Linked DNA regions of Homo sapiens: region 2 is linked to region 1. The links come from fine-mapping of genetic effects on gene expression. A gene starts in region 1. The other region holds a variant in brackets. All regions are shown on one strand. Distances are between the middles of the regions.

Region 1 (2,500 bases):
TTTATTTTTATTTTTCAGAGACTGTGTTGCCCAGGCTGGAGTGTAGACCAGCCTGAGTTTGAGACCAGCCTGAGCAACACAGTGCAACCCTGTCTCTACAAAAACAAAAAATTAACGCAGGCATGGTGGCCCACGCTTGTAGTCAGCTACTCTGGAGACTGGGTGGAAGGATAGGCTGAGCAGGGGAGGTCGAGGCTGCAGTGAGCCATGATCGCGCCACTGCACTCCAGCCTAGGTGACAGAGCGAGATCCTGTCTCAAAAATAAATAAACAAATAAATAATAAAATAAAAATCAGCTGTTGGTTCAACTCAACTTTCTTAATTTTGTTTATGAATGTCTGCCTTTATCTTAATGTTCAGGATTATTTATTTATTTGAGACCGGGTTTCGCTCTGTCGCCCAGGCTGGAGTGCAGTGGCGTGGTCTCGGCTCACTGCAGTCTCCTCCTCCCGGGCTCAAGGGATCATCCCACCTCAGCCCCCCAAGTAGCTGGGATTACAGGCGCGCGCCACCACGCCCGGCTGATTTTTGTATTTTTTTGTAGAGGAAGGGTCTCGCTTTTTTGCCCAGGCTGGTCTTGAACTCCTGGACTCAAGCGATCCGCCTGCCTCGGCCTCCCAAGGTGCTGGGATTTCGGCCGTGAGCCACCGCGCCCGGCCTAATCATGTTCGGGCTTTCTTATTTTCTAATCAATGTATTTAAGGCGATACATTTTCCTCAGAGTGTCGCTTTGACTGCATGCCACAATGTGAATAATGACAGGCAGGGATGTATATTAGGCGCTTATCACAGTTAGTGCTGAATATTGGTTAGTTCCCTTTAACCTTATCCTGTACTTGGCCGACAAGCATGTGTTGGGCGTCCGCCCGACGCCAAGAAGCTCTTTTTCAAAGCCGCTTTCCCTGCGCAGCCCCTGTTCTCCCGCGCGGGCAACTACTCCCGGCCTGGCCGTCACGCCCCCTCACGTCACTCACCGCCCCGCCACGTTCTCATGACACCACGCAGGTGCCAGCAACGAACTCCAGAACCCTCCGTGCCCTTCCGCTTTTCCAAAGGCATCTCTGGGACGACGGCAAGAAAAATAGTTCCTTGACAACTGAGCTCTTTTCAGGAGGAGGCGGGACCAGGCGGGACTTACAGGCGGAACGAAACGGAAGTCCGTGGTCCTTGTAACGGGATTGGGCCCCGCGCTCCCGGGGGGCGGGCTCAGATGGGCGGAGGGATTCATTTTAAGCAACGGGCGGCCCTCCGCCTCCATTGAAGGCGGGGAAATACCGCGGCGCGGACGGTAGTTGCTGTGGTTTCCGTTCTGAGCTCGCAGCTTAGGAGCTGAAGATCGCGGACTTAGCGTTGCCGCGTCCGAGTCCGGCCATCAGTGGCTGCAGATCCGGAGGCCAGGAGCTCAACCACCCTTCTTCGGAACAGGGCCGGCCTGCTGCTGTGCCCTCGACGCTCGGTGCCTGTATCTACTCCGGGGCCTAGGTCGGCTCCGGGGGCGGCTTAGGAGAAGGCCGCCGGCGAGATGTTCAAAAACACGTTCCAGAGCGGCTTCCTCTCCATCCTCTACAGCATCGGCAGCAAGCCTCTGCAAATCTGGGACAAAAAGGTCGGGCTAGGGGCGGCGACGGGGCGGGGTGGAGGGGCTGCACCCCCTCCTCGTCCGGGGGCTGGGGACGGGGAATGGTTGTGTCGAATTGGGGCCTGGGAGAGGCCGAGAGGACGCTGCTGTGCCTTGTCCCCAGCCTGGCGGGACTGGGGCGCGAGGTGGGGGCGTCGTGTAAGCAGCGGAGGAGGTGGGGGGGGGGCGGTGCATGTGGGTGGGCGTGGCTGAGATCTAAGTGTCCTGCAGCTGTGGTGTGGTTAGGACCGCGACCCTCGCTGCTGTCTTGACTTGGTCGGTCAGTCCATTCTTTTGAGCCACTGTTTCCCCACCAATATAATGGGGTTGATGGTGCCCATCTCGTAGCATGAAATGCACGAACTTATTTGAAGGAGCTTTGGGGATGTAAAGATGAAAGGACCTGCTATTCACGAATTCCAAATATTTACTGATATCCGTTTTTGTGCCAGGCACGGTGCTGGGCACTAGACACAGAGCCTTTGTTCAGGCACCCTTACAGAGGAGCAGACAGAAAGACTCCGGCCAAGCCAGTGATGTTTAAATTGCATTCATTTGCTCCCTTCCTCCCACTGATCCCAAATAAGTCAGAATTCAGTGGCCCTTGGCACCTGCTCCACACTCACTGTGACTTGCCTGTACTATGCCCTCGGTGCCTGATTTCTCCATCAGGAAAACTGCAGAATGCTGACAGTCAAAGTCTTGTTTGGATTAATAAACTCAGAGCCAAGTACAGGCCTCATCTTTATTCAGGCATCCACTAGATGATATGTGTTTGGCCCCACGAGATGATGAATCTGTTTTTTGCAGATGTGAAGAAAGATCTAGCTGTCTATGAATTGGTCTGCATTTTATTACTTTGGTATTTCGTTCTTCATGCA
Region 2 (3,014 bases), 500 kb after region 1:
CCTTCTGGTCATTCCTCTGTCAGCAGCACCTCCCGCTGCTGGGGTTCAGTGCCCTTCTCGAGTCAGGAGGCTTTGGATAACTCACACTCCCTGCAGAGGCTCCTGTCTGCCCTCCTCCTCCGAGCAATGAGGATAGATGATTCCTCAGTCAGATGTGCTGGGAGGCTTTTACAATGCCAGAAGGGTGAGTGGTGACAATAACAGTAATTACACTCGCTGACCACCGTCTGCATTCCAGCTCCAGAGCGCCCCTGGCAGTGGAGAGAAGTCAAACCTGCTACTCAGACCAGTGCCTGGTACTTGCCAAGCCCTCAATAAATACTCCCTGTGAATGTGGTGATGAAGAAGAGGGAGCTTAAGGCAGATACATGTAGCTCAGAGATGAGAATTAACCTGCCCAAGATCACACAGCAGGGAGGTGCCCGAGTTGGGATGGCGGGAGCACAGGCCGTCTGGCTCCATAGCGGGTCTCCTAACCACTCAGCAATCCAGCACCCCAGGCCTCAGCCTGGGGCCTGGACACGTGGATGCTTGGGGAACTTGAGATTCCTTCTCTCCGGTAGAGATCTGCCTTCTAAACAAGGGGGCCAGGAAAAGCTTCCCCATGCCACGTGGAGGAAGAATGAATGGAACGTCTCGGGCAGCCTAGGAGCCAGGGCTGCTGCAGGTGAACTGCACTCCTCACCTACCTGCTTGAAATCAAGCTGCAGAAAGGAAGGGCCACAAAGCCACCCCGTGGGGTGCAGGGAGGCCATAAGGTGAGAGCTTCCAGAAAACGGCACTGTGCTTCCCACATTCACAGTCCCCAGTCCAGGCTGTGGGCCAATACCTGGGGCAGGGAGGCACAGTGGGGACTGGGCCCATGTCATACCCTCTGCTCTCTCCCGGGGCTGCAGTGGGAACTCCCTTATTGCCAAAGCAGCAGAGGCCAGCCTACACTGGGGGCCCACTAACAAGGGAGGACAAGTGAGTTATCTAGGGGAGGATGGGTTGTCCCTGACATACCACCACCTCTGCCTCAGTTTCCCCAAGGTCAGTCCTTCAGGGCCTGATCAACTGGTAACCCGGGCAGCCTCAGCTGTTCCCCAGGGACCAGGCCCACAGGGCAGCTGTCCCCCCACCACCACCACCACACACACACCCCACAGAGCGTGCTGACCAGAAGGGCACAGATGGAGAGTTGAAGGCACCACTCTCTCTGCAGATGGCTGAAGAGAGTGCGGAGCCAGCTGCCACTCTGGCCACATAGGAGAGGCTTATGGGGCTGCCTGGC[T/C]GGGCGGAGTTGGCTGCCCAGCTCTGCCTGCCTCTCTCACCGTCGGACTTTGCAGAGACCTACTATGAGCTAGGGGCAGGCAGGTGAGGAAGCAGGCCCCCAGCTCTGAGTCTGGCTAGAGAGACAAGCCTGGTTCTCATAGTAGCGATACCTGGAGTTGGTATTCAGCATCCAGGGGTCTCTGGGAGTAAAGGGGGAGAAATTCAATGACTTGTTAAACACAACACTATCTGTTATGAGTGCTGATAACAGGACTAATAATCACCTGCTATGTCTGGAGGTTTTATGGTGTAAGATGCTCTGCTTGTACAGATCATTCTCATTTTATCCACACAACCCTGTGGGTTGGGTACCACTTGTATGTTAGAGATGGTCAGAGACATGAAGTAACTTAGCCAAGGTCGCACAGCTTGGACCTGGCTGGGCCTCCAGGTGTGTGGGCTGTAACCAAACACGGGACACCAGATATCCGGCCCCTGCTAGGCACTTCATCTTCTCCTTCTGTTCTCACAACAGTCTATCCCCACTTTACAGAAGGGGAACCGAGGTACAGGGAGGGCTACCCACGCCTTTCTATAACAGCCAGGATCTGAACTAAGCGTGTAGACCCCAGAGCCCCTGCTGGGACCTGAAGGAGAAGAAGGGGGCTTCGATAAACAGAGACCAGCAGGAAGGGCACCCCAGGCAGAGGGAACAGCATTGGCTGAGGTGGAGAGGTAGGGCATGGAGCCATGCTTGGAAGGAAGTGGGATCTAACTGGGCAGCAAGGGGCAGATTCTGGAAGATTTTGAAAGTGTAGAGTTTGGGCTTAAATCAAAGGTACTGGGGAGCCAGAGAAGATGTTTGGGTAGGGAGAGGCCTGATTAGCCCTCAAAATGTGGTCTTCAGACCTACAGATAGCCTGAGACCTGCTGAATCTGAATGTGTATTTTAATAAGATGCCCAGGGGATTCCAGAATTGGAGGTGTGAGAAGCCCTGGTCTAGACGCCAGGGACTTGTACCAGCAATGATGCGGAGGGATGGGCAGAGGAGTAGAGGGGAAGTTGGGTCCGGATGGGGCCTCGAAGGAGGCAGATGGGGGAAGAGCGGGGGAGGAGACTTTGGTCCAAGAGACCAGGAAAAGGGCTGGGACACCCCACCCCCCACAACCCGACAAGTGAAGGTGGGGACCGAGGAGAGGGGGAAGATGTCTGAAACGTCCCTGAAGAATCGGGGCACAGGATGGGGTGCAGATCCGGAAGGCAGAGAAGAGACTGCCCTGTGTGCAATGGAATGGGGGCAGCTCTGTGTCATGTGGGGAAGCCACAGGTCCCCCCTGCTTCCCAAGGCAGCTGGAAACACGTCGTTGGGGCTCAGCAGTGAGGGACTGGGGTCGCCAGGCCCAGAGAAGGTCATGGCATCATTGGCTGGCGACGGAGTCCAGAGATGGTGTGGGGAAAGCAGAAAGCTGAAGGTGCAGGAAACCCTTCGTTTTGAGGGACAGAGGAGAGGGGGCAATGCTGCTGCACCCTCTCTGAGCCCGGAGTCTGTGATCACAGACTCTGGGTTCAGGCCAGCTGGCCTCTACTCCCAGCCGGCCAGCTGGATGACTTGGGCAAGCATCTCTCCATCCATTTATCTCCTCGCCTGCCAAGTGGGGACCAAAATAGCACCTTCTATTGGGCCGATTAAATGAGGCCACATGCGTAAATCTTGCAGCCCAGGCCTGGCAGACAATGGGCACCCCAATGCATTGGCCAG

Direction of the effects. Positions count from the first base shown, and alleles are read on the strand shown. Sizes are in standard deviations (SD) of each study's normalised expression.
As copies of T replace C in region 2, the expression in macrophages after interferon gamma of the gene that starts at base 1,258 in region 1 goes down (large effect, 0.87 SD a copy in Alasoo 2018).

Evidence for each region. PIP is the estimated chance that this variant, and not a neighbour inherited with it, causes the effect.
Region 2: its variant is fine-mapped to the expression of CFAP20 in macrophages after interferon gamma (Alasoo 2018, PIP 0.95).

What each region holds. Positions count from the first base shown.
Region 1 is chr16:58,128,139-58,130,638 of GRCh38, reverse strand. It overlaps CFAP20 (cilia and flagella associated protein 20), which reads left to right and starts at 1,258. Exons shown (of 6, transcript NM_013242.3): 1 at 1,258-1,607. The coding sequence starts at 1,524. LOC101927556 (a long non-coding RNA gene) reads right to left here and starts at 1,755. Exons shown (of 4, transcript NR_188516.1): 1 at 976-1,755. RefSeq lists silencers at 234-471, 1,594-1,733 and enhancers at 152-1,072, 1,364-1,533, 1,073-1,994.
Region 2 is chr16:57,624,839-57,627,852 of GRCh38, reverse strand. It overlaps a transcript of ADGRG1 not described here. Among named protein-coding and RNA genes, the nearest start is that of ADGRG1, 2.3 kb to the left of the region's middle. RefSeq lists an enhancer at 1-42. The variant T/C (reference allele first, on the strand shown) is at 1,274.